5 linked regions of the Homo sapiens genome follow. The protein of the gene in region 2 purifies or fractionates together with the protein of the main gene of each other region. This does not show direct contact. Each region holds a gene or a part of one and is shown on either strand. Other genes may lie near its edges.

The links.
Region 1: the proteins of RBM6 (region 2) and THOC1 purify together in Homo sapiens (affinity purification with mass spectrometry; one large-scale study listed by BioGRID and IntAct). This does not show direct contact.
Region 3: the proteins of RBM6 (region 2) and TCERG1 purify together in Homo sapiens (affinity purification with mass spectrometry; one large-scale study listed by BioGRID and IntAct). This does not show direct contact.
Region 4: the proteins of RBM6 (region 2) and DDX23 purify together in Homo sapiens (affinity purification with mass spectrometry; one large-scale study listed by BioGRID and IntAct). This does not show direct contact.
Region 5: the proteins of RBM6 (region 2) and DDX42 purify together in Homo sapiens (affinity purification with mass spectrometry; one large-scale study listed by BioGRID and IntAct). This does not show direct contact.

What each region holds. Positions count from the first base shown.
Region 1 is NC_000018.10:216,748-223,251, reverse strand, and holds part of THOC1 (THO complex subunit 1), read left to right. Parts: intron 1-4,282; coding exon 4,283-4,366; intron 4,367-6,504. UniProt on the Homo sapiens protein: Component of the THO subcomplex of the TREX complex which is thought to couple mRNA transcription, processing and nuclear export, and which specifically associates with spliced mRNA and not with unspliced pre-mRNA.
Region 2 is NC_000003.12:49,965,912-49,972,415, forward strand, and holds part of RBM6 (RNA-binding protein 6), read left to right. Parts: intron 1-1,286; exon of another isoform or gene 1,287-1,558; coding exon 1,559-2,837; intron 2,838-6,147; coding exon 6,148-6,237; intron 6,238-6,504. UniProt on the Homo sapiens protein: Specifically binds poly(G) RNA homopolymers in vitro.
Region 3 is NC_000005.10:146,452,514-146,459,017, reverse strand, and holds part of TCERG1 (transcription elongation regulator 1), read right to left. Parts: intron 4,501-6,504; exon of another isoform or gene 4,456-4,500; coding exon of another isoform or gene 4,454-4,455; intron 3,963-4,453; coding exon 3,737-3,962; intron 1,836-3,736; coding exon 1,683-1,835; intron 135-1,682; coding exon 1-134. UniProt on the Homo sapiens protein: Transcription factor that binds RNA polymerase II and inhibits the elongation of transcripts from target promoters. Regulates transcription elongation in a TATA box-dependent manner.
Region 4 is NC_000012.12:48,827,697-48,833,654, reverse strand, and holds the end of DDX23 (probable ATP-dependent RNA helicase DDX23), read left to right. Parts: intron 1-135; coding exon 136-378; intron 379-1,081; coding exon 1,082-1,233; intron 1,234-1,468; coding exon 1,469-1,577; intron 1,578-2,338; coding exon 2,339-2,513; intron 2,514-2,962; coding exon 2,963-3,186; 3' UTR 3,187-3,899; downstream 3,900-5,958. Other genes in the region: CACNB3 (voltage-dependent L-type calcium channel subunit beta-3), read right to left, coding at 5,756-5,958. UniProt on the Homo sapiens protein: Involved in pre-mRNA splicing and its phosphorylated form (by SRPK2) is required for spliceosomal B complex formation.
Region 5 is NC_000017.11:63,814,245-63,819,169, forward strand, and holds part of DDX42 (ATP-dependent RNA helicase DDX42), read left to right. Parts: intron 1-1,318; coding exon 1,319-1,429; intron 1,430-2,623; coding exon 2,624-2,722; intron 2,723-3,449; coding exon 3,450-4,154; 3' UTR 4,155-4,925. UniProt on the Homo sapiens protein: ATP-dependent RNA helicase that binds to partially double-stranded RNAs (dsRNAs) in order to unwind RNA secondary structures. Unwinding is promoted in the presence of single-strand binding proteins.

The sequences.
Region 1 (6,504 bases), on a different chromosome or scaffold from region 2:
CAAAAAAATAAAGATTCACAAAAGGAATCAAAACTACAAACAGAAGAGTAAGCCTATGAACTGATACGGTTCTAGGGCAGCAGTACTAATGATTGCCAGCTTTGAGAACCAGGGAACTTGGGTTTTAATAGTCACAAAAGTTCGTTGAACTTGCAAAATGGGCAAGTTTAATAGCAGTCTAGACATAGGTAAAGTAAGAATTAATGGGTTAATTAATGATTAAGAAATCACCCAGAAAGCAATACAGAAGGAGCAGAGTTAGAAACGATGACTTAATGATAGTTGAGGAGGTCCAGCAAACATCTGATGGCAGAAAGAAATAATAGAGAATGGGAAAGAGGCAATAATTGAGTTAATTATTAAGAATAGGCATGAATTCATAGGTTCAAGAAGTATAATACTTAAGGAGGATAAACCAAATAAATCCATATCTCTGTACATGATAATAAAGTCACCAGAGAGAAAAAACAGACAACCTACAAAGGAGCAAAGTTAAACTAACAGTTGACTTCAAGAACAACAAAAATCAGAAGACAGTGGGATGAGTGCTTGAAAATGTCTTTCACATTCTCTATTATTTCTTTCTGCCATTAGATGTTTGCTGGACCTCCTCAACTATCATTAACTCATCGTTTCCAACTCTTGCTCCTTCTGTATTGCTTTCTGGGTGATTTCTTAATCATTAATCCAGTAATTCTTACTTTCCCTATGTCCAGACTGCTGTTAAACCTGCTCGTTTTGTAAATTCAATGACTATATTTTCTCATTTCTAGAAGTATTACTTGCTTTTTCAACATTTCAACTAAAAAATTCTGTAACAAGTTAAACAGTTGTGGTTGAGTGATTGACTAAAACTATGAGAAATTATCAACAGTCCCCAGTAAAAAAGCTGTCTTAAGGAAACTGAACCCAGAAAGGAGTAAATTGCAGAAAGGATTACTGTGTAGACACTTTGGTAAACATGAAGAAATCTGAATAAATCTTATCAAGAATTCACTGTTATAAAATAGTAATAATTATTATTTAGGGTTATTTTAAAAGGTAAACTTGATAAAAGTGACATGTAAGACAAGAAGGGGTGGTCAGAATTAAAGAATGTTATGGTTTAAGTCAAACATGCTTGTAAAGTATGTGAAAGAAATGGAATATGTAATTTTTAAATAAATTGAGGGGTAAAAGTAAATACAGAAAATTTAAGCAAGTAAATTAGAAGGTAGGAGAGGAGGAAAAAAGCACAGAAAACACAACAGAAAGTACAAAACAGTATGGTTAAATTCAAATATAAATGGAAATGGACTTTCTGGCTCAAAGACAGAAATTGGTGTTATATTTTAAAGATCTATCGGCCAGGCGCGGTGGCTCATACCTGTAATCCCAGCACTTTGGGAGGCCAAGGCGGGCGGATCATGAGGTCAGGAGATAGAGACCATCGTGGCTAACACGGTGAAACCCCGTCTCTACTAAAAATACAAAAAATTAGCCAAGTGTGGTGGCAGGCGCCTGTAGTCTCAGCTACTTGGGAGGCTGAGGCAGGAGAATGGCGTGAACCTGGGAGGCGGAGCTTGCAGTGAGTCGAGATCGCACCACTGCACTCCAGCCTGGGCGACAGAGCGAGACTCCGTCTCAAAAAAAAAAAAAAAAAAAAGATCCATCTATATGTTTATAAGAAATATACCTTAAAAATAAAGATATGGAAAGGTTGAAACTGAAAGAACTTTTAAAAGACGTAATTTTTAAAAGGCATAGTTATATTGATATCAGGCAGAAAAGGCTTAAAAGCAGAAAGCATTATTAAAAATAAAGGCAATCATTGCATAAAGATAAAAGGAAAAAATAGAAATATACACATTTTAAACTTTATTTTCTAAGAATGTGTTCTCAAAAATTTGACAAAATTAGAATGAGAAGTTGACCCAGGGTCAGTTTTCACCATCCACCACCACCCAGAAAACCTACCATCTAGTAGGATTTTGACAGACCTTTCTCAGAATTTAATAAATTTGGTGGAAAAAACTTAGTGTAATACATTTAGAATTTAACAAAATAATTAACAGGCTTGGTCTTACAGAAACCACAAGTTTTTGTAAATTATGTGTGAATAGCAAAAGCAAAAATACTTACAACTCCTTTAAACACACTTCTAAATAACCCTTGAATCAAAGAAGTCATAATGGAAATTGGAAAATGTAGAGCTAAATAATAATGAAAACACTACATGTTCAGACTTTTGAGATCTAACTCAGTAGAACACAGAAGAGAAATGTATAGCCTTAAGTGTTTACACTTTCAAAAAGAATGAAATCTAAAAACCAAGCTAATAAGAGTCTGACACTGAGAGTCATTCAGAAGAAAAGTAAACTCATAGAAGTAGAAAGTAAAATAAGATTAGAAATCAGTAAAATAGACAACAAACAATAGAGAAGATAACAAAATCAAAAGAGAAGATCAATAAAAACAAAAACCAGGAAAAATAGATAAAATTCTAACATGATTGATTCCTGCCAAATCTGTGAGAGTGAATCAACCCAGTAGAAAAATGTACAAATGAATAGTCAGATTCAGAAGTAGAAACCTTAATAAACCTCTGAGAAGACGGGGAACTTCACTAGTAACTGGAAGTACAGTTAAAAACTACAGCAAGCAGTTTCCAGCTAAGAGATTCAGTAATTTAAAAATACCCAGATTTTATAAGAATTATGGATAAAAATAATTTGCCAGTGCTGCTGGTAGGAGTCTGATGGCACAGTCACTCTATCTGAATGTTAAAGATGTCTGTGCCCCACTAGTAGGTGTGTTGATCAGAATAGTGTTTTTAAAAACTAAGTTTGAGAATCATTGGTGGTTTGTAAAGTCAATTTAGTAATTTCAACTAGCATTTTTTAAATGAAATAGGAAATATACTTTTGTGAAGCATTAGCTTTACTTATATATATCTGTACATATACTTGCATATATGTGTGTACTGGGTTGCAGTGTAAAATGAATTTCTTATTGTGGGTTGCAGTGGAAGTTTGAAGGCCCAGTGCCTAAAGAAATCAGTTCATCTACAAGGAGACAGGTGCAAGAATGTTCATTTAACATTGTCAGAGCAAAGAGTGGGAAGACAAATATCTCTGTGTAGGACATGGATAACTTGGGGCATGTTCATAAAATGGAATATAGTATCTGTAGCATTAGAAAATGAATGGATATTGGGATAGTTTTCTTAAAAGAGCCCATTTTCCTAGTTTTACTCTAGAAGATGTCTTCTGATCCTGAGACCTCATTTCTTTGCTTGACCCTGTATCAAAATTTTATTTCTAAAAACAAATTCAAGAAAGATGCATTTTAAAAATCAACCATGCTACCATGGTAACAATTTAAATAAGAGCTAAAGGTTAAACCCTTGAAATCGTATTATGGTCTGATTATTAGTTTTGGTTTAATTCTGGTTTAAAGAAAAAATAATTCGTGGATAGGGACTTAATGTAAAAGTTTATTTGCTGGTAAAATTCAAATGCTATAAAATACCCTGGCTGCCCTCTTTGAATAGCAACATATTTATATATTATAGTGTGTAATTAAAGTATATAATATTATATGTAGTAAATACTATGTAATATTTAGTATTAGACTATCCCCTTTATTTATTGTCCTTTTTGAATTTAGTTTTGACGGTTTTACTTCCTTAAAAGTCTGGAGTTCCCACGTAATCAAAACTGTAACTAAAAGTATGGGGCCATTAGAATCTTGTCCTGCCACCACTTTATGAGTATTTATTATTAAGAGTATATGCCATCCTCACTGGTTATTTTGTACCGCTCAGGGAACACATGCCCACAATCTTGTCCTGCCACCACTTTATGAGTATTTATTATTAAGAGTATATGCCATCCTCACTGGTTATTTTGTACCGCTCAGGGAACACATGCCCACAATCTTGTCCTGCCACCACTTTATGAGTATTTATTATTAAGAGTATATGCCATCCTCACTGGTTATTTTGTACCGCTCAGGGAACACATGCCCACAATCTTGTCCTGCCACCACTTTATGAGTATTTATTATTAAGAGTATATGCCATCCTCACTGGTTATTTTGTACCGCTCAGGGAACACATGCCCACAATCTTGTCCTGCCACCACTTTATGAGTATTTATTATTAAGAGTATATGCCATCCTCACTGGTTATTTTTGTACTGCTCAGGGAACACATGCCCACAATCTTGTCCTGCCACCACTTCATGAGTATTTATTATTAAGAATATATGCCATCCTCACTGGTTATTTTTGTACCGCTCAGGGAACACATGCCCACTTTGGAGGAATTCTTTGAAGAAGCCATTGAACAGGCAGACCCTGAAAATATGGTGGAAAATGAATATAAGTAAGTATGCTCCTCATTAGCTCCTTTTAATTTTCTTCAATTTGTTTCTTCCTTAGGAATTGTGTGTATACTAGAAAGCCTCTTAAGAGAGGCAGTAGATAGAATAGTGCTTTTTCTCTTAGGTGAGTTTATGTTCCAAGTTCTTGTTAGTACACATCCTGATTTCAAGGATTATTCCTGTTAACTAAGCATGACTTGGAATCACCCTTGTTTCAAAATATAAGAAAAAAAAAACTCCCCCTGATCCCCATTTCTCTCCAACTATTAGTTCTGTTCTCTCTACCCTTCAAAGCACAGTATCTCACAGCAGCTGTTAACCTATCCTGTTCCCCTTAATGTTTTCTTCTCTTGGCGTCCATGAGAATCCAAATCCATGGTTCTTCTGTTTGCCCTTTGCCCTCGTTGCCCACTCCACCTCACATTCCATTTCAGCCTCCTCATCCTCTGCCTAACTCAAATTTTGGAGTAACATCAGGAATTGGTCTTAGCCTCTTTATCTAGAACCTTCTGGGTGACACCGCAGTCTCATGGCTTTAAATAGGAATTGAAGAGTAGTGGTTTAAAGGCAAGAGGCCTCTGGTCAGAATGCATAGGTTCGATTCCCTCTACCACTTACTTACTAGGCAACTAAGGCTAATTTAATTATTAAACCGCCAGTTCCCTTTCCTCATCTGTTAAATAGTAACAGTACCCATTTCACAGGGTTATTCTGAGGATTAAATAAGACAGTGCACTTTGAACCCTACAGGGCATGTGGTTAGCACTCAGTATTTGTGACTAGTGTGACCCTGTGACCAGAGTTGTTAATTACTGTGACCTCTTAACTAATCTCTCTAGTTGTGGTCAGTGCTCCATGCATCAGCCAGTGATCTTTAAAATAATTGTCCAAGTCTAATCTGCTTAAAATCTCCCAGTGAGTGCCTATTCCAAACTCCTTCCCAGGGCCTAAAAGACCTCCTTGGTCTGGCTCATACTCTCCTGTGTGGCCATGCCTCCCCTCTGCTTTAACCACAGCAGGCCTCTTGGTCCTGTCTTTCCCTTTCCTGTCAGGACCTTCACACTTTACTGTCTCACTTGCTTGAACCACTTTTTCCCCAAGGTTGCCGTGGCTTAAAGTCCCCCTGGCTGGGAAGCTCTTCCCCTCCCTGGTCTCCTCTTTTGCATTCTCGTGGTTTTTATTTCACGGCACTTACCACTATCCAAATGAGAAGGTGGCACTTACCACTTTCTCATTTCTCAAGTTTTCCTCATCCTTATGAAATTGTCTTATACCTTGTGTGTTTATCACTAGCAATGCCTGCCTTACTGTGCCTCAGGTACTCTCCACAGCTACTGAGTGCCTGGCTCAAAAGTGTTTGTCGATTGAAAGAATATTAATTTATCACTGTTACATAAGACTAGGTGGACTCATTCCTAAAGTGATAGTTCAAATTATTATCTCCAAAGAGGGTTTTGTGGAGAATAAGAAAAATGATGTGTATAATTGACAGTGAATTTTGAAAATGCCTAAAATAATCAAATTGTCTAAACAGATATGTCAGAGAGGAAGGCTCTTAACTGTTTAGGCAAAGCCTCACAGCAGGTGTTAACTTGGGAAGAGTCCCCAGTGTCTATGGGTAGTTTTTGTTAAGTCTTCAGTGGTACCTGCACATCCTAAAGGTAACATATGCTTATTTATAAGAGGTGACCAAATAAACCAAATTGCTATTCTTAGGGGAGGAAGAGACTTCCAATCCAAAACTCTTAAATGGAATAAATTTGTGGTTTGGTTTCTTCCGCAGCATTGCATATTTCTGACGCATTATCTTTAGAATTTCTCTGCAGTTTGTTTCTCACCTGATGGTATACCACCCTGATCATTGTTATACTTCATTAGGGAACAGTTCATGGATTCCAAATAGCTAGATGGATGATTCCTGTTGTATACGTACTGCATCCAGCCAGTACTGCACACACTTGTTGACTTGTTAAAATTAAACAAAATGAACGGAAACTTTGAAAATGTGTTTGCTGCATATGAGCCTGCCTCTTCAGGCATTGTTGGTTCCTGTGATTAGTTACATGTGCATCTATTGGTTTGTTATTATCAGTGGACTACATACTGAAAAGTTCTTTAGGAATAAGATTCAAATACAAAG
Region 2 (6,504 bases):
GGTCAAGAGTTCAAGACCAGCCTGGGCAGCATGGTAAAACCCCATCTCTGCTAAAAATAAAAAAATTAGCTGGGCATGGTGGCGCATGCCTGTAATCCCAGCTACTCTGGAGGCTGAGGCATGAGAATTGCTTGAACCCAGGAGGCAGAGGCTGCAGTGAACCGAGATCATGCCATTGCACTCCAGCCTGGGCAACAGAGCGAGACTCCGTCTCAAAAAAAAAGAAAAAGAGAAAGAAAAGGTTTGGCATTGCAACTATTTCTCTTGAACTGAGTGACCCAGAATCAGTTGTCCTTTGAATTTTAGTATAGTAGCATAGTCTGAGCTCAGAAGGGCCTTATGATAGACCCTGTATGTTCTGGGAGGCAAGAATTGAGTTGGTATTAATATCTTAATGCTTTTGTTTTACTGCTGAATAACAGATGACCCTTCAGGTCTTTTCATGTTTTCCTTTTTCATGTCTCCCTGCCTAGGATCCTAGGTGCCTAATTGCCTACTTAAACTAGTTTAGGGAATCTTGGACTGAAGCCAAAACATGTAAAATGCCCTGAAGGTTAGGCAAAGGGAAGAAGTTGGGTAGTATGAAAGATTAGGTCACATCTTGTTTATCTCTTGAGTTCTATAAATTGAGAATGTAAATTTAATACTATGTCTATTTTTAAAATGTATTTTATTGCCATGAAAAAGTAGCATGAGACATTGGAATATGGAATATCAGCTTCTTCATTTGGGTCATGGGGATCATGCTTGAAGACCTAATGCTCTCTCTAGGTCTATCTCAGCATTGAGCCCCTGGATGCTGTTGCGTGGCTTAGATGACTTATACATGCTTTGTGGCATGATTCATACTACCTTCTACCTTCTGTGATACCCTTGGGTAGTTATAATAGGACCCAGGTTAGAGTGCTTCTTGGTGGAGCCACTGTAGAACTGGGATTTAGATGCAGCCAGGGCTGATGCTCAGCTGGTGAACACTGGTGTGCTTGTTCCTACTGGTGATTTACAACCAGTGTTTCTTCTTTTTGGGCCTGCATCCATTTTGATTGGGTGGTGTCCATGCTGTATCTGTAATAAAATATTTTTGAATGTTACCGCTGGATGCAGCGTGAGAAAGATACCTCCTGAAACTTACTGTAAGAAATTTACAGTGCATTGATTTTTCTGATATATAGGAATCGTCATGTTGACCTTGGAATTCTTAAGTTCCCTGGCTGTAGGAAATGGAAATTTTTGTAGTATGTCACCATTGTTAGCTTATTTGGTATTGCGGATTTTCCCTGTTGCAGGACTGGGTGAAAGCTTTTTCTGCAGCAGTCATGTTGAAAACCTTGTGTTGACTTTCCTCGTGTTCTGAAATGGGAGCATAAAAGTTTACTCCGCCACTTCGTCTTAAAATAGCAAAACTTTGCTGTTTTCTGCAGATCTAGGACCTTGTTACAGAACTCTGCCAAAAAAAAAATGTTTACAGAAGAATGTGCTGTGATTAGAGAAGAATATGCTGGTGTGTAGATTTCAAACTCTCTGGACAATATGAATAACACTGTCTTTGTTTCTACAGTGGGAGCCAAGAAGAAAGGTTTGCTCCCGGGTGGAACAGGGATTATCCTCCTCCTCCCCTTAAGAGTCATGCTCAAGAGAGACACTCTGGCAACTTTCCTGGCAGAGATTCACTTCCCTTTGATTTCCAGGGGCATTCGGGGCCTCCTTTTGCAAATGTAGAGGAGCATTCTTTCAGCTATGGAGCTAGAGACGGACCGCATGGTGACTATCGAGGAGGGGAGGGACCTGGACATGATTTCAGGGGGGGAGATTTTTCGTCTTCTGATTTCCAGAGCAGAGATTCATCACAGTTGGACTTCAGGGGTAGGGACATACATTCTGGGGATTTTCGGGATAGAGAAGGACCACCTATGGACTATAGGGGTGGAGATGGTACTTCTATGGATTATAGAGGTAGGGAGGCACCTCATATGAACTACAGAGACAGGGATGCTCACGCTGTTGACTTCAGAGGTAGGGATGCTCCTCCATCTGACTTCAGGGGCCGGGGCACTTATGATTTAGATTTTAGAGGCCGGGATGGATCCCATGCAGATTTTAGGGGAAGGGATTTATCAGATTTGGATTTTAGGGCCAGAGAACAGTCCCGTTCTGATTTTAGGAATAGAGATGTATCTGATTTGGACTTTAGAGACAAAGACGGAACACAAGTAGACTTTAGAGGCCGAGGTTCAGGTACTACTGATCTAGACTTTAGGGACAGGGATACGCCACATTCAGATTTCAGAGGTAGACACCGATCTAGGACTGATCAGGATTTTAGGGGCAGAGAGATGGGATCTTGTATGGAATTTAAAGATAGGGAGATGCCCCCTGTGGATCCAAATATTTTGGATTACATTCAGCCCTCTACACAAGATAGAGAACATTCTGGTATGAATGTGAACAGGAGAGAAGAATCCACACATGACCATACGATAGAAAGGCCTGCTTTTGGCATTCAGAAGGGAGAATTTGAGCATTCAGAAACAAGAGAAGGAGAAACACAAGGTGTAGCCTTTGAACATGAGTCTCCAGCAGACTTTCAGAACAGCCAAAGTCCAGTTCAAGACCAAGATAAGTCACAGCTTTCTGGACGTGAAGAGCAGAGTTCAGATGCTGGTCTGTTTAAAGAAGAAGGCGGTCTGGACTTTCTTGGGCGGCAAGACACCGATTACAGAAGCATGGAGTACCGTGATGTGGATCATAGGCTGCCAGGAAGCCAGATGTTTGGCTATGGCCAGAGCAAGTCTTTTCCAGAGGGCAAAACTGCCCGAGATGCCCAACGGGACCTTCAGGTATGTTGATGGGGTGGATTGCTTTTTTTTTTTTTTTTTTTTTTTTTTTTGAGACGGAGTCTCGCTCTGTTGCCCAGCCTGGAGTGCAGTGGTGCGATCTCTGCTCATGCAAGCTCCGCCTCCTGGGTTCATGCCATTCTCCTGCCTCAGCCTCCTGAGTAGCTGGGACTGACTACAGGCGCCCACCACCACGCCTGGTGTGAGCCACCGCGCCCGGCCTGCTTTTTTTTTTTTTCTTTAAATAAGACTTTTGTGAAGGATGACATTTATTTATTTATTTATTTATTTATTTTTGAAACGGAGTCTTGCTCTGTCACCCAGGCTAGAGTGCAGTGACATAATCTCAGCTCACTGCAACCTCCGCCTCCCAGGGTCAAGCAATTTTCCTGCCTCAACCTCCTGAGTAGCAGGGATTGCAGGCATGTGCCACCATGCCCAGTTAATTTTTGTATTTTTAGTGCAGATGGGGTTTCACCATGTTGGCCAGGCTGGTCTCGAACTCCTGACCTCGTGATCCGCCCACCTCGGCCTCCCAAAGTGCTGGAATTACAGGCATGAGCCACCGTGCCTGGCCAGTTTTTTTTTTTTTTTTTCATTTTATTTTTATCTTTGCATAACCATTAGAAAGCAAAATTTGTATTCAGGAGTGGAATGTAGGAATGTAAATCTCTAGAGAAAAGGTCCTCAGCTCAGATCATATATATGTGTGTGTGTGTGTATATATATATATGAATATATATGTATATATATGAATATATATTTATATATATATATTTCTTTTTTCTTTTATTCTTTTCTTCCTGCTTCACTTTCCATTTGTGTATATATGTGTGTGTATATATGAAGGAACTATATATATATATATTTGAGACACGGTCTTGCTCTGTCACTCGGGCTGAAGTGCGGTGGTGTAATTATGGCTCCTTGCAGCCTTGACCTCCCAGGCTCAAGCGATCCTCCCACCTCAGCCTTCTGAGTAGCTGGAACTACAGATGTGCGCCAGCCACTATGCCTGGCTAGTTTTTTTTTTTTTCCTTTGAGAATGAGTCTTGCTCTGTCGCTCAGGCTGAAGTGCAGTTGTGCGATCTCAGCTCACTGCAACCTCTACCTCCTGGGTTCAAGGGGTTCCCCCGCCTCAGCCTTCCAGGAAGCTGGGACTACAGGTATATTTCACCATTCCTAGTTAGTTGTGTTTTTTTTTTTCTTTTTTGAGATGGAGCCTCACCGTGTTGCCTAGGCTGGAGTGCAGTGGCACGATCTTGGCTCACAGCAACCTCCGCCTCCCGTGTTCAAGCAGTCTTCCTGCCTCAGCCTCCTGAGTAGTTGGGACTGTAGTTGTGCACCACCAAATCTGACTAATTTTTGTATTTTTTGTAGAGATGAAGTTTAGGCATGTTACCTAGGCTGGGCTGGAACCCCTGATCTCAAATGATCCACCCTTCTCAGCTTCCCAAAGAGCTGGGATTTCAGGCATGCACCACCATGCCTGGCCAGCAATTTTTGTATTTTTTTGTAGACAGAAGGTTGCAACATATTTCCCAGGCTGGTTTCAAATTCCTGGGTTCAAGCAGTCCCCCCACCTTAGCTTCCCAAAGTGCTGGGATTACAGCAATGAGCCACTGCCCCTACCCTTTTGATGTGTGTTTATTCATTATTTTGTTTTATGATGCTGATTTACATGCCTTGGGATAATTTAGTTTGAAAGTATATGTCTTTGGGAGTTGACTCTTGCAACTCTCGCTTAGTTAGACCTGTGATTGTTTAGGGATCATTTTCTTATTTAAATTCATTGAGAGAATACTTAGGAGTCTCCCTAGTTGTGAAGAGCTGATATTAATGTTGCAACTATCCTCTTGCAGCTAACGTAATTAACTTAAATGTTAAACTTCTTGAATATATGATTTAAGCAAGGAGGGTTATATTTGTAATTTTACAATGAAGGTATTCTCTTTTAAAGTAGATTTGGCTGGGTACAGTGGCCTATGCTTGTAATTTCAGTGCTTTAGGAGGCTGAGGTGGGAGGATCACTTGAGGCCAGGAACTTGAGACCAGTGTGGTGCAACCTCAGGAGAGAATGTGAGGGTGGGGAAGAAAAATAAGGCCAGGCACAGTGGCTCATGCCTGTAATCCCAACACTTTGGGAGGCAAAGGTGGGCAGATCATTTGAGGTCAGGATTTCAAGACCAGCCTGGTCAACATGGTGAAACCCCATCTCTACTAAAAATAACAAAAATTAGGCCAGGCGTGGTGGTTCTTGCCTGTAATCCCAACACTTTGGGAAGCTGAGGCAGGTGGATCATTTGAGGTCGTGGGTTTGAGACCAGCCTGACCAACACGGAGAAACCCCATTTCTACTAAAAATACAAAATTAGCTGGGCGTAGTGATGCATGTGTGTAATCCCAGCTACTCGGGAGGCTGAGGCAGGAGAATCCCTTGAACCTGGGAGGCAGAGGTTGCGGGGAGGCAGAGGTTGCACTATTACACTCCAGCCTGGGCAGCAAGAGCGAAACTCCATCTGAAAAAAAAAAAAAAAACGAAAACCAAAACCAGCCAGGTGTGGAGGTGGGCGCCTGTAATCCCAACTACTTGGGAGGCTGAGGCAGGAGAATTGCTTGAACCTGGGGGGCGGAGGCTGCAGTGGGCTGAGATTGTGCCACTGCACTCCAGCCTGGGCGACAGAGCGACACTCTGTCTCAAAAAAAAAAAGACATTATCTAGTCATCTTCTCTCACCAGAGGTATGAAGTACTGCTAGTTTACAGCCCATTCTCCAGCTCTCAGACCAGGGAAATTTTTCTTTTTTTTTGAGACGGGGGTCTCGCTCTGTCACCCAGGCTGGAGTGCAGTGGCACAATCTTGGCTCACTGAAACCTCTGCCTCCCAGGTTCAAGTGATTCTTCCGCCTCAGCCTCCTGAGTAGCTGGGACCACAGGCGTGCACAGCACAGTTGGCTAATTTTTGTATTTTTAGTAGAGACGGTTTTACCATGTTGGCTAGGCTGAGAAAATTACTGTTTTGAGACTATGTTAGTGTGTCTTTCTGGTTATTAAAGTCTTACTCAGTCTTGTCTCTCGTAATGTTTTGCTTTACTTTGAAGACTCTTTCAGTGAGACTTGGTCTTAGCACATTTACATTCTTATGATTTGAAGTCACATTCTGGCACTCAGAACAATAGAGAAAATTGTAATTTTTTATATCTTCACGTGACATGTCATTATCATTTTTGATCCTGAGTGGCTAAATTTCATGTTGATTTGTGTTTTGTGCAGTAAAGTATATTTGTGAAATAATTTTTCATTCTCAATTTAAGGATCAAGATTATAGGACCGGCCCAAGTGAGGAGAAACCCAGCAGGCTTATTCGATTAAGTGGGGTACCTGAAGATGCCACAAAAGAAGAGGTAAGGCATGTCTTCTCTCCTGTTTCTCTGTGTCAATTAAAAATTAAAAAAACCTTTTAATTTGAAAAATTGTAGATTCACAAGAAGGTGCAAAGAAATGCACAGAGAAGTCTTGTGTATTTTTTTCCCATCTTCCCTCAGTGTTAATATTTTGCACAACTGTGGTATAGTATCTAAACCAGGAAATTGACCCTGGTATAATACATAAAGTTTATTCAGATTTCACCATTTATACATGCACTCACTGAGGTGAGGTTAAAAAAAATT
Region 3 (6,504 bases), on a different chromosome or scaffold from region 2:
GCCTGCGCCTGGGCCTGAGCCTGAACCTGTGCCTGGGCTGCAAGCATAGGTGTCAGTTCTGATTGCTGAATAACCTTAACTCCATCTGGCTTGGTCCATGCAGATTCACGTGTCCGAGCATTATAATAATAAACCTGCAGCGGAAGCAAAAATCAATGGTATCATAAAATCTGTCAGTTATTATTAAAAACAAGAATGGAACCATATTTTATCTTTAAAGCTATTTAAAAATAACGTAGGGCCAGGCGTGGTGGCTCATTCCTGTAATCCCAGCACTTTGGGAGGCAGAGGCAGGTGGATCACTTAAAGTCAGGAGTTCAAGACCAACCAGCCTGGCCAAAATGGTGAAACCCCATCTCTACTAAAAATATAAAAAAATTAGCCAGGTGTGGTGGCCGGCATCTGTAATCCCAGCTACTCGGGAGGCTGAGGCAAAACAATCACTTGAACCCAGGAAGTGGAGGCTGCAGTGCGCCGAGATCATACCACTGCACTCCAGCCTGGGTGACAGAGGGAGACTCCATCTCAAAAATAAAAAATAGCTGGGCGCGGTGGCTCACACCTGTAATCCCAGCACTTTGGGAGGCTGAAGTGAGCAGATCACCTGAGGTCAGGAGTTTGAGACCAACCTGGCCAACATGGTAAAACCCTGTCTCTACTAAAAATACAAAAATTTAGCTAGACGTGATGGCAGGCGCCTGTAATCCCAGCTACTTGGGAGGCTGAGGAAGGAGAATCACTTGAACCCGGGAGGCGGAGGTTGCAGTGAACCAAAGATCGCACCACTGCACTCCAGGCTGGGTGACAGCACGAGACTCCATCTCAAAAATAAAAAAATAAAAAATAAAATAAAATAAAATAACTTAGGGCCAGGCACAGTGGCTCACGCCTGTAATCCCAGCACTATGGGAGGCCAAGGCGGGTGGGATTACCTGAGGTCAAGAGTTCGAGACCAGCCTGGCCAACATGGTGAAACCCTGTCTCTATTAAAAATACAAAAATTAGCCGAGCATGATGGCAGGTGCCTGTAACTCCAGCTACTCAGGAGGCTGAGGCAGGAGAATTGCTTGAATCCAGGAGGCAGAGGTTGCAGTGAACCAACATTGCACTACTGCTCTCTAGCCTGGGCGACAGGGTGAAACTTCCATCTCAAAAAACAAAAACAAAACAACAAAAATAGGTAATTCCACCCCACAGCCCAATTTTCTATAATGAGCACAAAGGAAAACCCATGTTATGTTTTATGCAGAAATTCAACATAACAGACCTGAGACAGCTATCTGTAGAAAGCCCTGCTGACCCTTATCTGGAGTCCAAGAACTTGGATTTCAGGAGGGTTGACATTCCCTTACTGATAAGAATGGCTCGATGTGCCTAAACCAGCTACGCTGAACACCTGCTTTCCTTCTAGGAGCCTGGAATTTGGTATGTGCTAGGCAGATGGTACCAATGTGACCAGAAGCTTCCAGAATCACAGGTAAATGTGTGTTAGCACTCCAGGCAACCTTATATCTGCTGCACAAAAACTAAATCCAGTCAGCTTCTCCTGAAGTCTTACCCCATTCCCTGCTCACCCAGGGCTCATTCTTAAATGACAGTATCACTGACCTCAATCTGCCAGAACTCTTTAAGTTTTACTCCTCTGTCAACAAATGACAACTTAAATATATTTTATTATTTACCTTCCCATCTGGAGTTTTATTTTCAACCCATATCTCCTCCGTAGGAGGTAGTGCTGGAGTACCAGGAGCAGTCACAGGAGGCATTCCTGGTGGAAACATCATACCCGGAGGAGGAGGCATGGAACTCATGGGAGGAGGCATGAAAGGTGGTCTCTGTTAATTCACAAAAACAGTAATGGTCACTTTAATTACTTTTCCTCCAAATTATTACTGAATTCTATTCAAAAGTAAAACACTGTAAGAGAAACTAGTTTTATAGTCTATTCAAACACATTCACCTGTCATAGAAGCAAAATGTCTGCAACAAAAATTACCAAACAAACTAGAAAGAAACACATCAAACTACTAATAGTGGTCAACTCTGGGTTATAACACTGTCAGTGAATTCTGCTTTCTCCTTTCTACATGATCTGATTTTCACACACAGGGCGCTGGATTACTTTTTTTAAAAAATTGATTTTTATATCCTGTTTTAATACCAGGCACATCACTGTCTCCACAGCTTCTTGAAGAATCCTTCAAGAAAAAGTTTTCACTGTGCATAAAAATGAGTTTCAAAATTAAAAATTTGACATTATGACATTATAAAAACATTTTGAGCAGGGATTTAAAAGATTTCCTCTATAAGCTGTAAGTAACATTAAAATTCAATTATCAAAAGCAGCTTAATCTGGATAATGGAACTCAAACTATGCTAATAGTGTGAAGTTGTACTTTATTTTCCTAAAAATGTCTTTCCCATACTCCAATCTTTGCTGGATTCAGTTGAGTATCTTTCAAGCGTCAGCACACCAGATCTAGGTTATATAAAATATCTATCCCAAATACGTTTCATGAGCCCTTGGCTGAAAATCACTTGGACTTAATATAAAGCCAAACAATTATCCAAGACCAAGAAAGGCATGACAACATTAGAAAGTATCTTAGCACAACATTTGATATATTTCAATGAGAGGGTTACATTAGTCCATTACATTTTATAATACTCCAAAGTAGGTTTAACTCTTAAAGTCACAAATTAGAACAAATTCACGTTAAAGATTATACCAGAATAAGTTAAAAAAACTATTTCTTATTCTAACCTTGAAGCAAATATAAAACCATTTAACAGTGTGTTTAAAGGAAGGAGAGGCTATTCGTTATTAGGAAGGCCATAAAATTATTAAGCAAAGTATTAAAACCTGTCTCTTCCATAACCACAACCCTACCTAAACAGAATTAACATCACTTAAATGGCACATCATTGTCTTCTTCCATTTTTAGTATAATTCATTCTTCACTGTCTAAGCTAATGGAAGGCAGATGATACCACTATATTTATTTGGTTTCAGAATTATACAGACTAAACTAAGAAAACATAGATACATACTCAAAAAGAATACAATCCCAAAATGAGACATTTGAGAGTTCATACCTTCATGACCTCACCTCAGACAGTAAGTCTGGATACACTGGAGAAGGATCTATGCCCCAGGTTAAAATACCATAAATGTTTTTATTTAAAGAAATCCCATAATAAATCGTTTTCAAAAAGAGTAAGATAACCCTATTTTCCCCCCAGGGGAGAAAAAAAATTCAACTATGTGCTTATAAAATGTGTTTGCTGTCACTTTCCAGATTCTATCCTAGGCACCATTTCCAGGAGGAAGACTTACTCAGGAACATATACACATATATTTTTAGACTTGCTGGCAACATATATCATTGAAAATAAATTTTCTCCACTCAAAAATATCTTAAAATTTCAAACTTCATTTCCCATAAAGAAGATGCATTACTAAAGCCAATTCACAGAGCTAAAGGTAGGTAAAAACTATTGAATCCTGGTTTTATACACATACTTCTCTATCACCATCTAAAGTCCTATTCTGAATTTCCATAGTAATTACTGCTACCACTAATTCAGAAGAAACATATTAATATATGGATCTTCTCTTTAGCTCCCATTTTCCTATAAACTGAAACTATTTAAGAATGTAAGTTTTTAACTCAAAACCCATATATAATATTGATAATGATGCCAACAAAGAAATGGCAACCTCTACATTCTTTACCTGGAGGTGTGGAGGGCCCATAGGTGGAGGTATCCCTCCTGGAGGAGGCATTGGCGGCATATTAGGATCAAAAGGAGGACGTCCAAAGGGCGGCCGTGGTGGTGGAGGAGGGCCTCGCATCATACCAAAAGGTGGAGGAGGTCGCATCAGAGGTGGTGGGCCTCGCATCACTGCATTTGGTGGGGGAGCCGGACCTCGGAACCTCAAGGCCTGCTGTTGGGCCATCCTGCATGGGAAAGCAAGGAATAAATTTTTCTTTCTTAAAATTACAAAAATGTAGCTACTGATCTCTAATTACATCCATCAAATTTAAAAGGTTCTTAAGTCTAAGTGGAGTTGGAAAGTCATCATTTTGCAACCGTCATGATAAAAACTACATCAATGGGCCGGGTGCAGTGGCTCACATCTGTAATCCCAGCACTTTGGGAGGTCAAGGCAGGTGGATCACCTGAGGTCAGGAGTTTGAGACCAACCTCGACAACATGGTGAAACCCCATCTCTACTAAAAATACAAAAATCAGCCAGGTATGGAGGCGCACGCCTGTAAGTCCTGCTATTGGGGAGGCTGAGGCAGGAGAATCACTTGAACCCGCAAGGCAGAGGTTGCAATGAGCCAAGATCAAGCCACTGCACTCCTGCCTGGGCAACAGAGCAAGGCTCCATCTCAAAAAACAAACAAACAAACAAACAACCAAAAAAACAAAAAAAAAAACTTACATCAATGGATGATCTAGTTTTGGATGAATGATCAATGGATGCCGAGTCTAGGCAAAAATTTAGACAAGAGGGTTATCTGATGGTCTTAAAGTATTTACCCACATGCTGCTTAAAGTTGCAAGAAAGGATGAAAAAAAAAACACTCTACATAATCTACGTAATAAGGAAATTAGGCAATACCTTGACCCCGTGATCAAAACTAATTATCATCTAAGAAGGACAGATAGATAATGTGTGACTGAGAGAGACACGACATCACCTATTCCGACCAAAAATGTATAACCTCAATCTAACAACGAGGAAAGTATCAGACAAACTCAGAATAAGGAAGGAATGTTCTTTCTTTTCTTTTCTTTTTTTTTTTTGAGACCAAGTCTCACTCTCTTGCCAGGCTGGAGTACAGTGGCATGATCTCGGCTCACTGCAACCTCCGCCTCCCGGGTTCAGGCGATTCTTCTCCCAAGTAGCTGGGACTACAGGCATGCGCCACCATGCCCGGCTAATTTTTTTTTTTTTTTTTTTTTTTTGTATTTGAGTAGAGATGGGGTTTCACCATGTTGGCAATGGTCTTGATCTCCTGACCGCATGATCTGCCCTCCTCGGCCTCCCAAAGTGCTAGGATTATAGGCATGAGCCACAGCGCCTGGCCGGAAGGAATGTTCTATTAAAAGGGGGATGTGTATTCTTCAGATATGTCAATGTTATCCATAAAAGACAAAGAAATGTTGTGGAAATGCTCCAGATTAAAAAAGGTTAAAGAGTCATAACAACACAATTTTTTTTTTTTTTTTTAGAGACAGGGTTTTGCCATGTTGGCAAGGCTGGTCTTGAACTCCTGACCTCAGGCGATCTGCACACCTCAGCCTCCCAAAGTACTGGGATTACATGCGTGAGCCACCACGCTCGGCCAATAACAACACAATTTTAACTCTAGATTGGATTCTGTACTAACAGGAGGAAATGCCATACAGGGCATTGCCAGATCAACTGACAACACTGGAATATGCACAACAGATTAAAGTATTATATCATTACAAATTTATGAAGTTGATAATTAGGCTGTAGTTAAGTAAAATAATATCTCTATTCTTAGAAAATACTGAAGTATTGAAGGGTAAAAAGCCATAGGTATACCTTACCCTCACAGTTCAGAATAACAAAGAGGATGCACGTGTGCACGCAAATAGTAAAGCAGAAGAGGTAAAATATTAACATTGAATAACACCCTAGCTTTATTTTTGCGACATTTTGTAAATTTGAAATTACTTCCAAAGTTTTTAAAGGGGGCAGGGGGGTCACTTGGCAGATCATTAGTAGTCTCTACCTAAAGGGAAAGCCTTTCCCTGTAGGGCACACTGCCCCACCACCCCTCACTCTCAACACCCTAATGTATTTTCTCCACAGCATTTAAGCAAATAAGTAATATCACATGAGATAGTATTATCTATCTCTTCCCCCAAGTGCTTTTGTAAAGAGAATTATTAACTCCTAAAAGTGCTTACTATGAGCCAGGCAGTGCTTGCTCTAAGCTCTTTTCAAAAATTAAGTCTTTTAATCATCAAAACAACCCAATGAGATGGATACTATTAATCTCAGTTTATAGATAAAGAACTAAAGCAAAGAAGTCACTTGTCCAAGGCCACACAACTGGTTCAGTACTAAAGCCAGGATTCAGGTGGCCCACGGTGGCTCGCGCCTGTAATCCCAGCACTTTGGTGGCCAAGGCAGGCAGATCATTTGAAGTCAGGAGTTCAACATCAACCTGGACAACATGGTGAAACCCCATCTCTACTAAAAATACAAAAAAATTAGCCGGGCATGGTGGTGCACGCCTGTAATCTCAGCTACTTGGGAGGCGGAAGCAGAAGAATTGCTTGAGCCTGGGAAGTGGAGGTTGCAGTGAGCCGAGATTGTGCCACTGCACTCCAGCCTGGGCAATAGAGCAAAACTCTGTCTCAATAATAAATAAATAAAGAAAATAAAGAGAGGATTCAAACACAGGCAAATGCTCCTTCAGAGTAGGAATTGTGTTCACTCTTGTATCCCTAGCA
Region 4 (5,958 bases), on a different chromosome or scaffold from region 2:
CTGCTAAACATAACCAGAGGTTGGGGTCCAAGTTCCTCAGCATTGGAGGTCTGTCACCCAAGTGGGTGGATAGTTCACAGGAAAGAAAAGAAGGGGCACCTGCTGGGCTATAAATGATTATACTGTACTCCTCAGATTGTGATTGCTACCCCTGGGCGTTTGATTGATGTGCTGGAGAACCGCTACCTGGTGCTGAGCCGCTGTACCTATGTGGTTCTGGATGAGGCAGATAGGATGATTGACATGGGCTTTGAGCCAGATGTCCAGAAGATCCTGGAGCACATGCCTGTCAGCAACCAGAAGCCAGACACGGATGAGGCTGAGGACCCTGAGAAGATGCTGGCCAACTTTGAGTCGGGAAAACATAAGTACCGCCAAGTAAGGCTGCTTCCCTGGGCTGGGAAAAGTTGGACAGGCCAAGGCGGGTGGATCACTTGAGCTCAGGAGTTTGAGACCAGCCTGGGCAACATGGCGAAACTCCGTCTCTACAAAAATTTAAAAAATTAGCTGGGCATTGGTGGTGCACACCTGTGGTGCCAGCCACTCAGGAGGCTGAGGTGGGAGGACCTCTTAAGCCTGGGAGGCAGTGGTCGCAGTGAGCTGAGGTCGTGCCACTACTCCATTCCATCCTGGGCAACAGAGTGAGGCCCTGTCTCAAAAAAAAAGAAAAGTTGTACAAGGTTGCCAACCTCCTTTTGGGCCTTTCTTGCCTTAGGTGGGCTCAGAGTACATGTTTCTAGAATGAAGTGTGCCTAGGTACAGTCCTCTGACAGTCCTAAGGGTGGAGCCATTTAGCTTAGCCCTGGAAAAACGATTCCAAAGACTCATGCTGCTACCGGGACCACAGGTGCTAGCAAATGCTCTCAATCCTTCCTGTCATCATAAGATGGAAAGTGCCTTGATGAGCAGGTACTCAGGAAGGATGGGAATTCAGAGGACACTATTTTCTAAGGTGGTGGCTATCAAAGCCTATACTGTGGCCCATTTTAGATTCTTTAGTCTGGGCTGACCTGCCTTCGGTGACAGTGGGATATATGATTATTCCTGCCTGGGTGCAGGGCTGAGCCTCCTGTTTTCGTAGACAGTCATGTTCACGGCCACCATGCCCCCAGCGGTGGAGCGTCTGGCCAGGAGCTATCTTCGGCGACCTGCTGTGGTGTACATTGGCTCCGCAGGCAAGCCCCATGAGCGTGTGGAACAGAAGGTCTTCCTCATGTCAGAGTCAGAAAAGAGGTATGAGGGCAGCTGAGCCAGGGGAAACAGGGTGGAGAATAAAATGGCTCTGAGAACTTTTTTAGTGCAGGTGCAGGGCAGGGCAATTGCTCTGCTGTGTTGAAGAGCTGCTGTTTTCTTGGGCAGAATGTCATGGGCATTAAAGACCCTGAAAGTAGTGTTCATAGATGAGGGTTGGGCATTTCACTTGGAGTGGGAGGTATTATGCATCTTGTTTTTCTCCTCTTCCTTCCAGGAAAAAGCTGCTGGCAATCTTGGAGCAAGGCTTTGACCCACCCATCATTATTTTTGTCAACCAGAAGAAGGGCTGCGACGTGTTGGCCAAATCCCTGGAGAAGATGGGGGTGTGTCTGGCAGGGGAGAACAAAGTCTAGCCTCTGTGGCACTGCTTTCTGAATCTAGCAGGGCCCCCTAGGCTCTTCCTTTCAAGTCTCACCCTTTCTTTAGCCTGTCCAGCAATCAACAAGTTAGGACCAGGGTGAAGGGTGGTTTGAGGGAATAAAGAGAATGGAATCAATTGCTGGGACCCCCTGTCTGCTGCAGTAATGCCAGCCAAAGCTGCCTTGGGTCTTCATCCTGGTGAGGTGGAGCCAGGGAAAGGTTTGAGACCCATATCCTGGCAGTCTGAGGATGTAGAAAAGAGTAGGTGAAAACTGCTTAGGTACGTTGAGAGGAGGTGATATGGTCAGAAGGGAGCTGATAATCAGTGTCCTTTACTCCTGTCACTGGTGCTTGAGGGGAGGGGTGTGTCCCTGTCACTCAGCTCTCCAACTTCCTTAAACTTCTTGATCCCTGCTTTCTACCCTGATCTCGCCCCTAATTCTCTTTGAGGACTTTTCATCTGTCTGGCTCCACCGCTCTCCCAGCTGTTTTGCCTTTGACCTTACTCTGTGTGTCCCTGCCACACCACACCTTTTTCTCTCATCCCTCTCTTCAGCTCACTTGTTCTCTCCTTCTTTCACTGCAATCATTCTCTTGTTTCCTTTCCTTTCTCGTACTCTGCTGCTCTCTCCAACCCTCCCTTCATCTGTGTCCCATTCCTCTGAACTCCTGTGTCTCTCCTTGATTGCATTGCTCACTCTTCACTTCACCATTCTTCCAACAGTACAATGCTTGCACACTGCACGGTGGAAAAGGCCAGGAGCAGCGAGAGTTTGCGTTGTCCAACCTCAAGGCTGGGGCCAAGGATATTTTGGTGGCTACAGATGTGGCTGGTCGTGGTATTGACATCCAAGATGTGTCTATGGTTGTCAACTATGATATGGCCAAAAATATTGAAGGTAAGTTCCAGGGAAAGCAGCTTCAATCCAGGGTGAAGTCAGATTCCTTATGGTGTCCCACTGGAAGTCAGGGTGCTGTCCATGGAAGGCTGTTACTGCCTCCCTCAGTTCCAAGTCTGGGATTGCTTGCTCCCATGAGAAGCACTCCTGTCCTTTATCTTACCTGGGTTTGTTGTCCCAGCAGCTGGGATGACACTTGTGTCCTCAGGAGTGTGAAGAATGAAGCTAGGCAGCTGTGGGTCTTAGTGTGGTAGGGACCACAGTCAGTAGGAGGACAGGGGAGATGGGCACCTGGAGAGGGCACTGTGGGCGCCTCAGGTTCAGGCAGCATGTGCTGTATTCCTGCCTTTGGAGATGGGGTGGGAAGGATGCCTCTAGAAGTGGAGGCATCAGACACGGCTCCCCAGGGCATCTGGGCTATGCTGAGTGACGTTCTTCCCATTCCCCAGATTACATCCACCGCATTGGCCGCACGGGACGAGCAGGCAAGAGTGGGGTGGCCATCACCTTCCTCACAAAAGAGGACTCTGCTGTGTTCTACGAGCTGAAGCAAGCTATCCTGGAAAGCCCAGTGTCTTCCTGTCCCCCCGAACTAGCCAACCACCCAGATGCCCAGCATAAGCCAGGCACCATCCTCACCAAGAAGCGCCGGGAAGAGACCATCTTTGCCTGACACAGCACTCTTCCTGTGGGCTGAGGGCATCTCCAAAGCTGCCTGATGCCTGTTTTTCAGAACCCTCACATCCCTCTTTCCAGGTCCTCACTCTTGGGATATGGGGGCTTAGGAAAACAATCCAACTCCCTAGCCCAGACCCTCAGGTCAGGAGGCCTGCGTGTGGGGCTGCAAAAGGAGAGGACGACGCTGTCGGAGGCAGGGAGAGCAAATTACCACAGCTTCTTGGCCCAGTTCTGCCCTTCTTTGCTTTGGGATTGCACTGGGCCATCAGCTCATGCCAGGCTATGGGGGCAGCCAGTTGGCATTGCTCCCCAGACTGAACAGAAACCTGGCCGCCGGATGGGACCTCCTTTGGCACAGACTTGACTGTGTAACTGCATAAACTGCAGTAGCATCATTGCCCTAGATGCCCCAGGAGACCTGGCACCATGAGGATTACAGACAGTGGAATCTTACTGTCATCTGGACAGCTGTTTTCCTGTTTGGATGGTAAAGGAAGTTGAGAGTCTTTAGACCTGTGCACAGCCCCGCACCAAGGGGTGCTGTATGCTCTAGGCATCCCCTCCCCCAGGGGATTTTCTAAGTAGATGGGGGGACACGGTGAACTGGCTGTGTCCATCTTTGTCACTGAGTGAAATCTCTGTTTTCTATTCTCTGAGAAGATAAGTTTGTATGTTCTGAGAATAAATACATGAATATTAAGACTGTTAGATCTAGTTCTAGTTAAACTTCCCAGCTTCTCCCTGGCAGGAGGGACACCACTGGGTGCGGGGTGGGTTGGCTTGGAAAATGAGAGACAGCCACATTAAGAGAAGAGTAGAGGGGTCTCTGCTGATAGTCTTGAGTCTGTAGGTGGACTTGAGAGGAGATGCAGAAGCCACGCAGGACTGTAATGCATCTTCCGCCCCTGCTCTAGCCTCGCGTAATGTGTGGCCCTGGCCTGGACACCCTCTAGGGAGCTTTAGGCAAAGGTGAGAAAGGAAAGCAGTTGTGAAATTTTGGCAGGTGAGGCAGTTGGAACCACTCTGCCGCTGTGTGCCCAACGCCTGGTCTCGGGAGCTTTGCTTGTGGCTCCCTAGTTGGACCCATTGCTCCTGGGAGGGGATGGTGCAGAACGGGTGGACCCAGCTGTATCAGGCTGTGGTGAGAGGAACGCAGGGCTGCAGTCCTCCCCCCATACCCCTCTTGTTCACATGCTCTTCTTACCCCACAGAAAGAGTTGGCCTAGTACATAGAGTTCAAGTTGTAGCTGCTTCTAGGGCCTTTTTGGCCTGGCGCAAGGATACTGTAAAGCCGTGACCAAGCGTCTTCCCCACATCCCAGGACAAGCCCTTCCGTGCTGCTGGATGTCTCCCTCTTGACACCTGGGCATGAGGAGTGGGGATGCCTGGGAGTGGAGTGCCTCCCCAGCTCTGCCTTTGTCCCCTTCCCGCTGGACAGATCCTCTGAGAGAAGGGCGGCCCAAACACATCTTTCCCTCCACCAGACTTTGGGCCGCATCACAGACAGAACAGAAGCCGGAGGGACTGTGCATGATGTTTATTAGTGATGACAGTGAGGTGAGGCAGGGGCTTGTGGAGCATGCTCTGTAGGTCACACACTAGAGCCATAAGGCAAGAGTAGCCGGGGAGACAGGTCCTCTGTGCCCTGTCTCTCCCCATCTAACCCTAACCTAACAAGCGGCAGCTATGAGTCAGGGAACAAAGTCTGGAGCCCGGTTCTCCAAAGATGTATGAGGGACAAGAACAGAAATGACAGGATGCAGGGCAAAAGAATGAGAAAGGCAAGGAGGCCCCCCTAAGTTCTCTGCTACACATGCCCTCCTTCCCCAAACCCCCATCCAGGTTGGCTCCCATCTGCCACTTGGCTTCACCATGCTCCTGGTCCCTGGTCCTGTCACATGTTAAGAAGCTTCCTGGCAGGGTGAGGAGAGCCCTTCCCTCCAAGAGCTTCAGCTGTGAGCTCTCTCTGGCCCGAGCGTGGCCAGCCTGCTGCTCCAGTCTTGGATGTGGCTGCCACACCCCAGCAAACAGATGGGTGTGCCACCCTGGGGGGGCTTTGATTGTCTCATTTCTAATGTATGGCAGTGAGGTGACTGGAGGCCCTGGATGCCAAAGCAGTCCCTTGACTGTCAGGACTTGTGCCTGCTCAGGGACCTTGTTTCTTCCTCATGCCATGGTGCCCACACCCCACCCTTTTGTCACTTTAATGGGGCATCCCTTCCCTGAGTCTGGTGGGAAGGACCCTGCTAAGGGGATCCTGGCCTGAGGGCACTGCCCAGTGGGGCAGCTTCCTGTGTGGGAGGAGAGGAAGGTGCCAGGGGTGCAGAACACACAGCTAGTACCTGGAATGGGAGCCTAGTAGGGGTCACTGCCCAGGAGGTGAGGGGGTCCCCTGTTTCTCCCAGAACCTTGGGACCACAGGCAGCCCTGAAGCTGGGGCTGGGCAGGGGGTTTTGGGGGCTGAGCCTAGTGCCAGCCTGATGCCAGTCTAACGCCACCCTGCCTGGAGTGGGCCCCCCAGCCAGCTGCGCCTGTGCCTGCCAGGGTAGGGCAGCAGGAGGCTGTCAGTAGCTATCCTTGGGCCAAGGCCGGTTGCGCTGCCAGTTCCGGTCACTGTGGTTGTGCTCTGAGTCCTGGGCTAGAAGCCGGTCTTGGGGGTCATGCCCGTTAGCACTAGGCAGCCCCGAGGTGTGTTGGCGGTGAGGCTGGTACAGGTCCTGGTAGGCATCTGCATAGTCCTCCTCCAGGTGGCGGGAGCTACGCTGTG
Region 5 (4,925 bases), on a different chromosome or scaffold from region 2:
ATTCTAACAAATCAAACCTGGAGTCATCTGAATCCATGCTGTCCCCAAATTACAAATGGGTTCGGAACACTTTCTGAGAGCAGAAACTGTTAAGAGTTTGTCAAATGCCTAGGCCAGCTCACACAACTGGTACAACCCAGCTGCAATGTGGCAGTGCCCAAGTTTCTGGTCCTAGGAGTAAAGGACCTGCACTGCAGGAGAGAAGAGAATAATGTTTCCTCCCCTGCTCCTGAGCACAGAGAGCTAGTCCTAAATAAACTTTTAAAACAGGACACATTTTGACTTTGGCATTTTCTTCCATTTCTTTTTGTACCTCAGGCTTTCTGTGCTCAGGACTTTGTCCAAGCCTGCTGCCCTACCTCTCAAGCACTTTATTTTGCTGGTAATATGTGATTGTCAGATAAAACTTTAACCTTCCCAGAGACATTTGCTTTTTTTTTTTTTTTTTTTTTTTCTTTTTTCTGAGATGGAGTCACACTCTATCACCCAGGCTGGAGTGCAGTGGCGCAGTCTCAGCTCACTGCAACCTCTGCGTCTCCGGTTCAAACAGTTCTCCTGCCTCAGCCTCCCAAGCAGCTGGGATTAGAGGCATGTGCCACCATGCCTGGCTAATTTTTGTATTTTTAGTAGGGACGGGGTTTCACCATGTTGGTCAGGCTGGTCTTGACTCCTGGCCTCAAGTGATCCGCCCACCTCGGCCTCCAGAGTGCTGGGATTCATAGGCGTGAGCCACCGCCCTGCATTCTTAAGAGAATGTGAGTAAATATGTTGAGTGGCAATGGTCAAGTTCAATGAAAACTTTTACGCTCTGCGGGTAAATAAAATTTTCAGTTGTGTGGCTACCATCCTTTCTGGGAGTCTGTCCCTATAGTCAGTTCTGATAAGCCTCACTTCACATAGCATTTTTCCTTTGCTTCTGAACATACCAGTTGTTTAAGTTCCAAATGTTTACGTCCAATAATACATGGTTTGAGAAATAAAATATAAGCTCATTTTCCTCAAGGAAGTTAGAAGTAGCCAAAGTTACTCCTCTGGGTTTGAAGCTTACCTGAACAACTTCCCTTCCAGGAGAGCCTTGAGGGAGGGAGCACTGTAGGAAGCCTTAGATAAGGATCTCAGCCACTTTTCAAATTTGGTGGATTATGCTACCAAAGAGAAACCAATCTGTGGTTCCTGTGAAAATTCCTCCCTTAGCGTAGTGCTGGCTGAAAATTAAGCAAAAGTTCCCCCTTCCCACTTAATTTCCTCTTTGTCCTCGTTCTCTTCTTCTGTTCTTTTCTCCCTCCCTTGACTTAACCTTGAATTTTGTTCAATGCAGAATGCCTGGTTTCGGAAATCTCGATTCAAAGGAGGGAAAGGAAAAAAGCTGAACATTGGTGGAGGAGGCCTAGGCTACAGGGAGCGGCCTGGCCTGGGCTCTGAGAACATGGTGAGTCTAGACTACTACAGTAGTGCCTTTATAGTTGGTCTCATGTCCTGAAAGTCATTAGGAATATTCTCATCTACCCAGGAAAGCCTCAGTGAGTTTAAAGCCCTGTCTAGAAGGGAATTTGTATTTAATCTGATTTGAGTCAATGCAGTGCTCATTCTTATGGTAACTTTCTATTGAAGAAGCATCTTTGTGTACTTGGTTGACTAGGCTTGCTCAGGAAATTATTCTAGATTAGCAGTGATCTCACACTGTGGTCCCTGGACCAGCAGCACATGCAAACTCATCCCCAACCCCAGACCTTGTGAATCAGAAACTCTGGAGTTGGGGCCCAGCAGTCTGGTTTTATAAGCCCTTCAACACTGGCCTAAAGCCTGCTGCTAGGTAAATGTTGCCAAAGGGTCACTGTAAAGTCTAGCCATATCTTGTCATTAAACTCAGGAACGGATCAGGAATTTCCAAGTCGGGAGCTAGTTTTTCTCACAAACCAGGTAACAAATGTACCCTTTTGGTGGCCTTTCTTAACTGCCTGTTTTCTGTCACCTTGATTCCAAGCCAGGGAAGAAAGCTGCCAGTATACTTTTCTGGAGCATTAAACTTGGCATCTTTGTAATTACATACTCTGTTCCCACATTATAATAATAATGATGATGATGCATAATAATAGGTAATATTTATTGAGCACTTTATATGTGCCAGGACCATTCCAAGCAATCAGATGTTTTGGCTCAGTTAATCTTCAAAATAACTGAATGGAAGTTAGTACAGATAACAATGCTGAGGCACCTAAGGTTACAGTGACAAGTGTTCAAGCCGAAATTCAGACCCTTCATGGTCTTGATTCAGGGCCTGAGCAGTCACACAATATGCTATTCAGGGCCTTTTCATCTTTAACGTAATTTTTACTTAATTAATTGGAAGTGTTTATGTAAATACATGATCAACTTTGGGCATAATCTGATTGCATTTCTGTTTAATAGGGTTAATTTCCAGAAATAGAATTTCTGGGTTGAGGGCATAAGCATTTTTAAATGATTGTCACTGTGTCTTTTCTCACAAAGCAGTAGCAGCTTTCTAAAAGTATCCAGTTCCTTTGTAGCTCCCACTTCAAGGGTTTTCATAATGAGGCCTAGTCTATAGCAGTGAGCTTTCCTGCTTATTTTTTCATTCTCATAGATGTGTTTATTTTTTTAGGATCGAGGAAATAACAATGTAATGAGCAATTATGAGGCCTACAAGCCTTCCACAGGAGCTATGGGAGATCGACTAACGGCAATGAAAGCAGCTTTCCAGGTCTGAAATAAGCATTTCATTAAAAGCACTTTCAGCAGTAACTCTTGGGCAGTGACAGAGGGGCTTAGTTTTCCTGGTTGTAGCTGGGCGCCTAGGCTTGATGCTAGATTTAGGGTCTTCACGCTGCTTGGATTTTGAATATAAACCTAACAGTAGCTTAGTTGGAAATGCAAGTTGATCTAGAGAACCCCTTGTGCTGGTCTACTTTGAGTCACACTTGGGGCCTGGGATTGTTGTCCTGCAGCAGGGTGTGTGTTCCCTCCCTTCCCAACAGCCTGAAGTGTTGCCCACCTCCCAGGCACCCACCTCCAACTCACTTCTGAAGCAAAATTTACTGATAGTCACACTAAGGTGAATCGATAGAATGAGTTCAAGGCAGGTTTTGCTGTCAAACTTAAATTGCAGTATGAAAATTTTTTTTAAGTTTTCAGAACTTTTTGGTTTTGAATGCAGATAAATGTGCTAAATACATAGATGCTTTATTCTAGCCAATCAGGCTATAAAAGTACATTTCAGAACACTGGGGGTCCATCTCTCCACAGAGATCCACAAGTTTTCCTTTATAGCACAAGAACAAAAGGGACCATACTGTGGGGCCATCAGGACACTAAACTCACAGTGCCAGGATAGCACAGAGTTTCTGTAAACCTCATCATTTGCCAAGTTGTATATTCAAGTTTCTTGAACTTGCTATCTTACCTACTCCTGATGTCTCTTTCTCTTTCAGTCACAGTACAAGAGTCACTTTGTTGCAGCCAGTTTAAGTAATCAGAAGGCTGGAAGTTCTGCTGCTGGGGCAAGTGGGTGGACTAGTGCAGGGAGCTTGAATTCTGTTCCAACTAACTCAGCACAACAGGGCCATAACAGTCCTGACAGCCCCGTCACCAGTGCCGCCAAGGGCATCCCAGGCTTTGGCAATACTGGCAACATCAGTGGTGCCCCTGTGACCTACCCGTCTGCCGGAGCCCAAGGAGTCAACAACACAGCTTCAGGGAATAACAGCCGAGAAGGGACTGGGGGCAGCAACGGGAAAAGAGAGAGATATACTGAGAACCGGGGCAGCAGCCGTCACAGTCACGGAGAGACTGGCAATCGGCATAGCGATAGTCCACGTCACGGAGATGGTGGTCGCCATGGAGATGGATACCGCCATCCAGAAAGCAGCAGCCGTCATACTGATGGCCATCGGCACGGGGAGAACAGACATGGAGGAAGCGCAGGCCGGCATGGGGAGAACCGGGGTGCAAATGATGGTCGGAATGGGGAAAGCAGGAAAGAAGCTTTTAATCGTGAGAGCAAGATGGAGCCCAAGATGGAACCCAAAGTGGACAGCAGCAAGATGGACAAGGTGGACAGCAAGACAGATAAGACAGCTGACGGCTTTGCTGTCCCAGAGCCGCCTAAACGCAAGAAAAGTCGATGGGACAGTTAGAGGGGATGTGCTAAAGCGTGAAATCAGTTGTCCTTAATTTTTAGAAAGATTTTGGTAACTAGGTGTCTCAGGGCTGGGTTGGGGTCCAAAGTGTAAGGACCCCCTGCCCTTAGTGGAGAGCTGGAGCTTGGAGACATTACCCCTTCATCAGAAGGAATTTTCGGATGTTTTCTTGGGAAGCTGTTTTGGTCCTTGGAAGCAGTGAGAGCTGGGAAGCTTCTTTTGGCTCTAGGTGAGTTGTCATGTGGGTAAGTTGAGGTTATCTTGGGATAAAGGGTCTTCTAGGGCACAAAACTCACTCTAGGTTTATATTGTATGTAGCTTATATTTTTTACTAAGGTGTCACCTTATAAGCATCTATAAATTGACTTCTTTTTCTTAGTTGTATGGCCAGGCAGTCCCCATTTTAGGAGTTGGCTTCTGCAAATTCAATCCATTGAGCTAACTGTTGGGGAGCAATTTGGTAGTTGTAGACATTTGCAGGGAAGGGAGATGTCTGATTCTAAATGGGAGTTGATGCTCAGGTCCCCAGCCAGGTTTGCATCCAGCCCTGAGACATGTAGGAAACACCTTTCAGACCCAGGCTCTGAAGATTCCCAGAAGCCACAAGGATTGAAGGGAAAAGGTGATCCTGGTAACTGTTCCAGGATTGCTCCAGGTTTGAGATGGTATTGCTAAATTTAAAATTAAACAAGAAACCCAACAACAGCTTTTAAAGTGTCTTCTATCTCATTGTATTTTTTTTAACTTGCCCCAATGATAGAAAAGTCT